Regions from separate parts of the Homo sapiens genome. Here all the other regions are linked to region 2. The links come from fine-mapping of genetic effects on gene expression. A gene starts in region 2. Each other region holds a variant in brackets. All regions are shown on one strand. Distances are from middle to middle.

Region 1 (2,602 bases), 440 kb after region 2:
TTGCTGGCAAGAAAAAGAGACCAGGGCAATTCCAGAACAAAGAAGGTGGAGGTGCTCCTGGTCTCAACCTTGGTCTTTATTGGACCCCACTGCCTTTGTGCGCTCTCTCTTACTGTCCACTCCAGGGGCTCAGGCTGCCGGGGCACACTCAGTGGGCACAGCTGCAGGACTGTGAGGCCTCCTCTAAAGAGAAGACTGAGGGTCCTCCAGCATTATTGTAAGTGTTCAAAGCGTGGTCAGAATTCATCTGGATAGAAGAACAAGCACAAACGGGTAAACATCCTGGCAAGACTGAGTTTGGCCTCATGTCATTCACAGTGCCACTGGTTGGCCCCTTTCCTGCCTCTGGGTCTTGCCCAAATGTCATCTTGCCCACATGTCACTTCTCTATTTAAGGATGCCAACTGCACCTCACCTCTTATTTGGACCATCTTTCCCAACTGGATTTGCCATCAAAATATTATACAGAAAATTTGCAAATTAGTACAGAGAATTCCTGTCTACCTGTTAGCCAGTTTCCCGTAATTGTTCACATCTTACATCACTATAGAAAAGAACAAGTTTCATGTTGGTCTAAAACTGCATGTCAAACTTTAAGCCTTCCTCAAATATCATCACTTTTCCCACTGATGCTGTTTTTCTTTTCCAGGATCCAGTCCAGGGTCCCACATTGCATGTACCCACCATGTCTCCTTAGTGTGCTTTTGTGACTCGTCTTTCCTTACCTTTCATGACTTTGACATTGGTGAAGAGTGCTGGTTAGTTATTTTCATAGGCGGTCTGTATATTTTGGTGTGTCTGATGTTTTCTAATGGTTAAAGCATATGGGTTTTTTTTTGTTTTATTTATTTATTGCTATTGATTGGGTCTCTCCTGCCACTGGAATATCTGCTCCCTCCGAGCAAGGATTCTCATTGGTCTCGTTCACTTGTGTGCAGGAACATCTGTGTGTGCCTCGCACCCATGCTCAGTCAATATTTGCTGGGCGAACGAATGAGACTGAACTCCCAGGCATTAGTGGAGCATCTGACCTGACCTGAGAGAAACGTGGAGAAGCTGGGTCCTGGCAGAGCCTTGATGGGCAGTTGGGCTGGATGGGCACTAAAGCCTCTTTCAGCATTCAGGTTCTGTGATTTTGTAACCTGATGGTGGTATCTGAACTCAAGCTAATTAAATTCCACAGGTGTTTGCTGAGGAAGTACTTGCTGTGGCATCCTGGGCTGGGCAAGGTGGGGGATTGATGGGCATGTGCGATCCAGGCTCTGAAATGCAACCACATTCCCAGGGAAGCCAGGAGCACAGGGATTGCATGTAAAACACAGGTGTCCAGTTAGTGGTTTAGAATCTAGACTTTGGATTAGTGGCTCCCAAACCACAGCCTGCTTTAGAATCACTAGGAGGACATTATTAAAACACCAATTGCT[G/A]GGTCCCACCCTCAGAGTTTCTAAGTTGCTTGGCCTGGGTGGGGCCTGAGAACTTCCAACAGCAGTTCCAGCAACTTCCCAGGTGGTGCTTATTGATGATGCTGGTCTCGCAACCCTATGTTGAGAAGTATTACTCTAGATGTTAAGAGAACACACAATTTACTGCTAATTAGCAAGAGCCAGGAGGGCTTCCTGGAGGAGGTGGTCAGGCTTGAGTAGGGTAGGATTTTCAGAGGTGGGTCTGAGGCTTGAATCTATACACAGCTGGCTTGCTGCCACCACATGCGATCTGTGGTGCCTTTTGCCTGCCTTTGCCCTGCTGGCACCTGGCCTCACTCGTGGCCTTGTCCAATCCTCTTGGTACATGAGTGATCTTGGCCAGGGGAGTCTGAGCCCCCAGAGGAGGAGGCTGACTAAGCCTTAGAATGGAGTTGACCTTGGCTGGCTGAGATGAAGTCCCTCTGAGGCCTGGACGTGGCCTGCGCTGCACAGCCTGCCTTAATGTGTTTATCTGCCTGGGCCTTGCTCGCTGTCTGCTGGCACCATATGAGGTGTTGCTGTTGAGCTCCGTGGCTCTATTTCTGTTTTCTCGCCTGGCACCAGCACAGCAGGGCAGATGAGGTGTGTGGCCACCCTTGGTTTCTTCCTGGCTCCAGGTTCTTCTTGAGGTGGGCATTTGGTCAGGAAGAACATTTGAGTCTCGCTAGAGTGTCTGGTACAGAAGCAGCTGGACCTTTTTCAGGAGGGAGAGGTTCTGGGAAGGAGGGAGAAAACCTTTAGAAATTTAAATAAATTTAGACTTAGCATCTGGCGGTGGTAGTGAGAGGTGACAGCGTGCTGGCAGTCCTCACAGCCCTCGCTCGCTCTGGGCGCCTCTTCTGCCTGGGCTCCCACTTTGGCGGCACTTGAGGAGCCCTTCAGACCGCTGCTGCACTGTGGGAGCCCCTTTCTGGGGTGGCCAAGGCCGGAGCCGGCTCCCTCAGCTTGCGGGGAGGTGTGGAGGGAGAGGCGCGGGCGGGAACAGGGGCTGCCAGCGGTGCTTGCGGGCCAGCGCGAGTTCCGGGTGGGTGTGGGCTCAGCGGGCTTAGCACTTGGGCCAGCAGCTGCTGTGCTCAATTTCTCACCGGGCCTTAGCTGCCTTCCCGCAGGGCAGGGCTCAGGACCTGCAGCCCGCCATG
Region 2 (2,602 bases):
CAATTAAGCAAAGATTGATGTGCCCTTCCTTACCATTTGTTTCCTCTGAAGTAGTCGGTTGGTCATGAACTTTCTAGTGCGGATAGTTACGGTGTCGTTCTGAAAACATAAACACTCTGGTTAATAAAACTACTCCAACTTTTCTTGGCCTTGCTGTGATTTTCCAAGACCTAGAATGTTGCAGTCCAATTTGTAGCCATTAGTCATGTAGCGAACTAAAGTAAATAAAACCCACTGGGCAAGGCCAAACTCACAGGATACACCTAAGGAATACATAAAATACCAGGAAAACACAATGGTTTTACACATGAATCTGTACAACTTACTTCACTAGGTTATGTGTATCTCTGGGGCAGGGTTTCTCAACCTCAGCACTACTGATATTTCCATATGGATAATTCCATATGGATATGTTGTGGGGACTGTATGTTTTAGAATAACTATAAAAATCCCAGCCCTCTAACCACTAGATGCCGGAAGCACTTCCCACCTTTCCCAGTTGTGACAATCAAAAATGTCTCCAGACTTAGCCAACTGTTCCCTTAGGAGAAAAATCACTCCGGGTTGAGAATCACTTCTCTGGGGTAAAAACTGCTGTGGCTCATATAAAGGTCACTCAATGAACTGTGTTTATCATGTCTTGCACAAATGTGCCCCAAACCTTGTACTCACTACCTACATGTAATCTATCCTTCTAGAATGGCCATAGCAGAGATCAGAGAAAACGATATTCCCTTCTGAAGGACTGAACTGCACCTTTACTTAATACCTAACAAAAAATGTGGGCATTAAGCAATTTATGCTAACAATTTTACCAAAAAGGAGGCGCAAGAGACTTTCATGGCAGCAAATAACTTCCTAGACTTTCTCCATTTTACTTTGAGAAACCACACCAAATTAAATCCACGTCAGTGGTACTCAATTCTTGAAAGTAACGGATCAAAGGTAAGGAGAAAAAAAAAAGATTGCTGGTAAAGTTAAAAACGGATGCTGGAGGAGCTAATAACGCATGACTTAGGGCAGGACTACCTTTTTATAACATCTCTTTCCAGGGCCTGTTTCCCCACTATGAAACATGAAGATCCATCCAGCTGACAAGTTTTCTAGCTTACACGTGGGAATGGTTTCACTTGCCGCAACTCGCCCAGGCGCTGCCCGCACCTTCTTCACCTCTTGTACTGCCATCACCTGCAAGCCGCCTACCTAGCCCAATGAGGAACTGCAGACGAGATGTGCCTCCCAGTGTCCATCTATCCCGCCCGCCCCCTACCCCCATCCACCGTGCTCCACGAAGTCAACAAGCGCAACAGCTCCTGCACTGCCCAGGCGCTGGAGCCCGAAGCCCAGCGTGTCCGGGTCTACAGCGCAGCCCGCCAGCCCGGACGCCCTGCCAACAGCCCCGAGCCCCTCGACAACCATCCTCTGACAGAAACGGCCAGAGAAGAGCAACCGGGCTTCGCGTGCCTATAGCTCAAGTACTGGGACCCAGGGACCACGGATGGCTCGGATACGCGGCAGATGACTGCACGGGCCCAGGGAGACTCACCATGATGGCGATCTATCTTCAGACAGCCAAGGAGGAAAAGAGAACCACGATTCGCCGGCCAATCATATCAACGCGCACGGAAGGACCCCGGGAAGAGCCGGCGTGGGGGCGTGGGCGCGCCACGAGGCTGACCGCGCCGATGCCTGATTTAGGCTGCCTACGGCCCCGCCTCACAGACTTTTGGCCACACCCCTGGAACTCTAGACTGACCAATCCAGAACCAGAACAACTCGAGCCGACTAGGTTTACGCAAGCAGGTGTTCAATTTCAGTTCAATTCATTATGTTGAATTGTACGTATTTGAATTCCGGTAAACCAAATTAGTTTAAATTGCCTTCTTCCGAGTTAGAGGTGGGTAAACTTGGAAAGCATTTTAGGATATCCTCTCTAACAGTCTCCTCGTTATATGGCTAGGGAAACTGCAGAAACCCTGACTCTAAAACCTTTGTTATTTCAAGTACTTAACATTGCCCATTCTAATTTATTATTCATGAGTATTATTTCTGTGACTTTTATGACGAATCTTTACTTTAAAAGATCTCTTTAATTTGTATTTTTCTGCAAATCTTGGTCATTATGCAAAATTAGATTTTGAAAAATATTTGGCCGGGCGCGATGGCCACGCCTGTAATCCCAGCACTTTGGGAGGGCAAGGCGGGCGGATCACCTGAGGTCAGGAGTTCGATACCAGCCTGGCCAACATGGCGAAACCACGTATCTACGAAAATAAATAAATAAATAAATACAAAATACAAAATTAGCGGGGCGTGGTGGCTCATGCCTGTAATCCCAGCTACTCGGGAGGCTGAGGCAGGAGAATCGCCAGAACCCGGGAAGCAAAGGTTGCAGTGGGCCGAGATCACACCATTGCACTCCAGCCTGGGCAACAGGAGCGAAAATCCGTCTCAGAAAAAAAAAAAAAAGAAAAGAAAAAAAAGGAAAAAAAAATTGGAAGCCAGGGGCAGTGGCTCACGCCTATAATCCCAACACTTTGGGAGGCCGAAGCAGGTAGATGACCTGAGGTCAGAAGTTCGATACCAGCCTGGGCAAAATGGC
Region 3 (2,602 bases), 220 kb after region 2:
ACCCAGGGTGCCAGCCGTAAGTTCTGGGGATCCTACTGCTGCTAAAGAGAGAGTTGACCAGCCCTGGATTTTGGAAAAGGGGCATATATAGAGAGGCTGTCTCCTCCTGAAATGGGGTGTGGAAACAGATGGCTGTGGTCCCCCTGACCAGCAGGGGCCCATGGTAGCCAGGAGTTGTGGCCCCGGGGGTGGATTCTCACTCAAAGTGTTTGGCTCCCTGTCCAGGAGCAGATGCTGTACACCTGTCTGTATCTGCCCCTGAGCTGTGGGTTGAAGGGCAGAAAAGAAGGGGAGGCATGCCCTGCAGTGCTGCGCCACAAGCTCAGCAGGAGAGATGGGATGCACAGGCAGAGGAAAAGAGACAGGATGCTCACAGCTTCCTGAGGTCAGATGCCTTTGGAGAGGGCCCCTGAGCTGAGGACAGGTGGAGGGGAGAGGACAGGTGGATGTCATGGGTCCAGGCTTCTAATGTGTCTGCTCTGCTCAGGGCACAGGGTGCAGGGCTATGTGACCTGGTCCCCATTTATAGCTCAGATCTAGTTGCCACAGGAGTGGGGGTGGCTCTGGGTGGCTTCGTACTGCTCCTTATCCCTCCTGTCCTCCGCCTCCAGCTCACACCTGGACCCTGCCGGTACCCACTCCACTCTCCAGGGCAGTGGCACCACCACCCCGGAGCATCCATCTGTCATCGACCCACTGATGGAGCAGGACGAGGGGCCTAGCACCCCCCCAGCCAAGCAGAGCAGCTCCAGGTCAGCAGACGTTGCTGTGAGCCTTCCCTGTGTCCGCTTCGGCTGGGTGGGGCTGAGCACATTCTCCAAGTGGCGTGGGCACTGGGCAGCTGGCCTCATGTGCTGCAGGCCGCACACCAGGTCTTCAGGAGTTGGGCCGGGAGCACGGCATTCCTTTTTTCCTTCCCTACTCTCTCTTTTCCTTTCTCTTTTTCTCCTGTTTTCTATTGACTTGTTTTTTCCCCT[G/A]CATCTTCTCTTTCTCTTCTCCTTTTCTTGTTCACTCGCTTTCTGAGTCTGTCTTTGGACACATTCCCACAGTCATCACCCGGCCAGGCCCTGGGCTCTGGCCACCCACAGCAGTGCTTCCCCCAATGAGGTGGCAGACCAGTGCCGGGCACGTGCAGCAGAGTCAGGGTGCTGGGAGGGCACTGCCGGCCGCCGCAGAGCAGGCAGGAAGATCACTGGAGTGTGGCAGGGGAGGTGGCAGCTGGATTAAAATGTTCAGGACAGGCAAGAGCCAAGAGTGGGCATAAAGAGAAGTCCAGGCCGAGGGAGCAGCAGAGTTCAGGAGGAGGAAGGAGCTCCATGGGAGCTGCACAGCGTCCAGCCTGGCCTGGGGCTGCAGGGAGGGCCATCCAGGCCATGGTGTGACATGATCACTCTGCCGTCCTGGAGGAGCTGTGTCTCCAGCACTGAGAGGCCTTCACCAAGCCCTGGGCAGCATCTCACAGAATGAGGCCAGCTCTGCATTCTCTATACCAGAGTCTGTCACATTGGAACTTACCTGCTGCAAGGTTTTCCTCCCGGGCTGGCATCTCCCCTGAAGCCCCCTGTATCTGTTTCCATCGCTGTCCCATCTCACTCCCTCCATGTGTTCAGCAGCTTACTTTCAGCTTCCCTTCCTTGATTGTAAGTGCCTTGATGGCAAGGGGCCCCTCTTCACAAGTTAGCAGTTGCTGGTCTATAGAAGCTTCTTCGTAGACATTTGCTGAATACATTGCTGTGCTCTGGACAGTGAGGCCAACTTTACCTTTCCTTAGGAAGTACTAAGTTAGGAAAATGAGTGTGATCCACATGGGAGGGAGGCCATCCTGATCTTTAAGGCATGAGATTGATAGCCGGGCCTGGGAGCAGGGGCACTGATTTACGGTTTTGACTGCCCCCGCTAACTGGCTTTGGACCTGGGGTCTTGCCTTCATCTCCAGTGCACCTTAGCATCCTGTCCCGAACGCCGAGCCAGTAGAACTAGAGGCCACCTCTCAGCTCCCTGTGGTTCTGAGACCCCAAGAAGCAGGCAGAAAGCGGTTAGGGCATTGGCCACTGCTTTGTCTTTTTGTGCCTCCTCTTTGTGCACAGTTGAGGAACTTTGTTTTTTTCCTGAAAGGATTGCGGGAGATGCCAACAAGAAGACCCTGGAGCCACGCGTTGTCTTCATCAAAAAGTCCCAGCTGGAGCTTGGGGTGCACTTGTGTGGTGGGAACCTGCATGGGGTGTTTGTGGCCGAGGTGGAGGATGACAGTCCTGCCAAGGGTCCTGACGGCCTCGTGCCAGGGGACCTCATCCTGGAGGTGAGTTCTGAGCTGCTGAGCAGGCCAGGCCTCCATCTACCTGCACAGTGGGCTTGCTGCCATCTCAGGTGGCACCAAAGACGGAGGAGTACAGCCTCTCATCTGGTGAGCCAGTCAGGGCTGACTTTTGTTGTTGTTGTTGAGGCAGAGTCTTGCTCTGTCGCCCAGGCTGGAGTGCACTGGCACAATCTCAGCTCACTGCAACCTTCACTTCCCAGGTTCAAGCGATTCTCCTGCCTCAGCCTTCCGAGTAGCTGGGACTACAGGCATGTGCCACGATACCCGGCTAATTTTTATATTTTC
Region 4 (2,602 bases), 480 kb after region 2:
CTTGATCCTCAGTTCTGGGTGTGTCTGGGCCATATTTCCAGAGTCCTGGCTTCCACCAGATGCAGCATAATCACGGTTTTGAAAGCATAAAGAGTCCTTATTGTACTGTATCCTGGTCTTCATCATCATCACTTCCATAGACTGCACTTTACAGGGCATAGAATTCCCTTTTTTTTTTTTTTTTTTTTTTTTGAGATAGTCCCACTCTGTTGTCCAGGCTGGAGTGCAGTGGTGTGATCTCGGCTTACCACAACCTCTGCCTACCAGGCTCAAGCAATTCTCCTGCCTCAGCCTCCCGAGTAACTAGGATTACAGGCACATGCTACTATGCCTGGCTAGTTTTTGTATTTTCAGCAGAGATGGGGTTTCACCATGTTGGCCAGGCTGGTCTCGAACTCCTAAACTCAAATGATCCACCTGCCTCGGCCTCCCAAAGTGCTGGGATTACAGCATGAGCCACCGCGCCTGACCCTGAATTGACTTTTAATTCCTCGCAATTACTTTGAGAACTATAATACCATTTTTAAAGGTGAAGACACAGGCTCAGAGAGATTGGGTAATTTGCCCATGGTTCCTCTGATGGTAACTGGCAGAAAGGGGAACTGACCGGAAATCCAAGCCCAAGCTATTTCTCTCTGTCCACACCATATGTCAGCTGTGTCGATTCTTATGCCATCCTCTTTGAAAAGAACTCAGAGTGCTTTTGAAAACCCACATTTTGCAATTGCTGCTTTATAGAGTGTCAATGTTTGTCTAAGTTAATTCTCAGGTAGTGACGATCAAAGATGTAACAGTTCATCCAGGGTTTACCTAGTTAATTCCAGCACAGAACCAGAAACAAGATTTCTGGCCTCTCTAGCACTAACCTCTCCAGATGCCTTCCATGAGGCATATGTGTGTGCTAGAGGCATGGAGGAGCTAAGTTTGGGTCTCTGTACTGTTCCCTTCTCATCTGTTTAACCTCCAAAGTATTGTACCATGTTCTCTGTGTCCAGTGGAAAATGATGTTTTTACATTGCATCATCTGTCATTCTTAACCCCAGAGTGGGGCTGGAGTGTTGGAACACTTCAGCACAGGACTCTGTTTAAAGCTGTGAGAAGCTCTTTTTGTTTTTCTAAGTCGGCTGAACTAGTAAAACAGTTTTACAACTGTGTTTTCAAGTTCTGTTCAGAAAGACAAGCTTGAAAAAATAGGTGATGCTGAAGTGTCATTTTAGTAAATTTTTTTTCCCTGTTAGAAGAGAGGTTGGCTCTTCCTTGATTCTAATCTTTAGGTTATTTCTCCAAGAGCTACCTTTCTGTTTTTTTTCTTTCTGCCCCATGAGGTCTTCAGTCCTGGATACTCTCATCCTATAATAGCCAGAAATGACCCTTGATCCATGGAGTTTGAC[T/A]TGGGCTGAAATCAAGTTTCAAGAAATACCACAGGGCCTTGTGACTTTGTCACATGTCACCCTGGCCTGTGAGGGGGCCGTCTGACTCCCGCCCTGAAGTGTATCAGTCACATGCCCTTGTTTGTCTGCCCCCTCCCCAGCTCCCCAGCCCACCTCCCTATGTCAGTGTCCTCTTTCTTAAATCTGCACTGGACTGGGGAAGTTCTTCATCTGATGCGTTTTCCTGTGGTGTGCGTGCGTGTGTGTATGTGGTAAGAGTGAAGAGATGATCAAGGAAGATTGAGGCAGCTCGAATTTCATTATGAACGGTTCTTCTGAGAAGAGAAGTCACTTTCATATTATGAGAAAAGTTAGGAAGAGGTCAATGCCAACCTGCACCCCTCTGTGATTGGCTATCCCCTTCACCTGCCTTGTGTAATGTTGCCCCCTTTCCCTAAGACCCCCAGGAGGGCCTAGTTTGAGAAAATGGGCCGTAATGGTTGACTGTGCCCGAGAGATCAGGCTCTTCCATGTGCGGAGGAGTCTTTGGAGATGGCACCGTTTCCAGGAACAGGAAGGCCTTGGAAAGTTTGTGGGCTCCTTGGGCAGAGGCAAAGTTTCTTTTGGACTCTTCCTTAGTCTTCCTCATTTCCAAATTTCAAAAGTGTTTTCTCTTTCTCTTTCTTTCTTTTCTTTTCTTTCTTTCTTTTTTTTTTTTTTTTTTTTTGAGATGGAGTATTACTCTTGTCACCCAGACTGGAGTGCAGTGGTGCAATCTCGGCTCACTGCAACCTCTGCGTCCCAGGTTCAAGTGATTCTCCTGCCTTAGCCTCCTGAGTAGCTGGGATTATAGGTGCACACTAGCACGCTCAGCTAATTTTTGTATTTTAGTAGAGAGGAGGTTTTACCATGTTGGCCAGGCTGGTCTTAAAACTCCTGACCTCAAGTGAGCTGCCTGCCTTGTTCTCCCAAAGTGCTGGGATTATAGGTGTGAGCCACCACACCCAGCCCAAAAGTAATTTCTTTGGACTCTTCCTTACCTCATCAGAGAGGAGCTGCTACTTTGTTGCCACAGACTGTCCTCAGAGAGCCTTTGATCCTGTCTCTGCTGTTCCCTGTGCTGCAACCTGGGCTTTCAGCAGGCGAAAGACACAGCAGACCTGCCCATAGCTGTGGGCAGTCCGGCTTGGCTTGTTACCAAGAGATTTACTCAGCTTGCTTTGAAGAGCTTG

The links. PIP is the estimated chance that this variant, and not a neighbour inherited with it, causes the effect.
Region 1: its variant is the best candidate, but not a certain one, in a credible set for the expression of RPS24 in whole blood (INTERVAL, PIP 0.63).
Region 3: its variant is the best candidate, but not a certain one, in a credible set for the expression of RPS24 in whole blood (INTERVAL, PIP 0.60).
Region 4: its variant is the best candidate, but not a certain one, in a credible set for the expression of RPS24 in whole blood (INTERVAL, PIP 0.70).

Annotation. Positions count from the first base shown.
Region 1 is chr10:77,590,395-77,592,996 of GRCh38, reverse strand. The region is part of intron 1 of KCNMA1 (potassium calcium-activated channel subfamily M alpha 1); the gene reads left to right. Among named protein-coding and RNA genes, the nearest start is that of KCNMA1, 46 kb to the left of the region's middle. RefSeq lists a silencer at 315-503. The variant G/A (reference allele first, on the strand shown) is at 1,425.
Region 2 is chr10:78,032,849-78,035,450 of GRCh38, reverse strand. RPS24 (ribosomal protein S24) reads right to left here and starts at 1,588. Exons shown (of 6, transcript NM_033022.4): 1 at 1,547-1,588; 2 at 34-99. The coding sequence starts at 1,549. RefSeq lists an enhancer at 1,259-1,788.
Region 3 is chr10:77,809,244-77,811,845 of GRCh38, reverse strand. DLG5 (discs large MAGUK scaffold protein 5) reads left to right here. Exons shown (of 32, transcript NM_004747.4): 23 at 612-752; 24 at 2,116-2,299. Among named protein-coding and RNA genes, the nearest start is that of DLG5, 120 kb to the left of the region's middle. RefSeq lists an enhancer at 2,588-2,602. The variant G/A (reference allele first, on the strand shown) is at 978.
Region 4 is chr10:77,554,093-77,556,694 of GRCh38, reverse strand. The region is part of intron 1 of KCNMA1 (potassium calcium-activated channel subfamily M alpha 1); the gene reads left to right. Among named protein-coding and RNA genes, the nearest start is that of KCNMA1, 82 kb to the left of the region's middle. The variant T/A (reference allele first, on the strand shown) is at 1,392.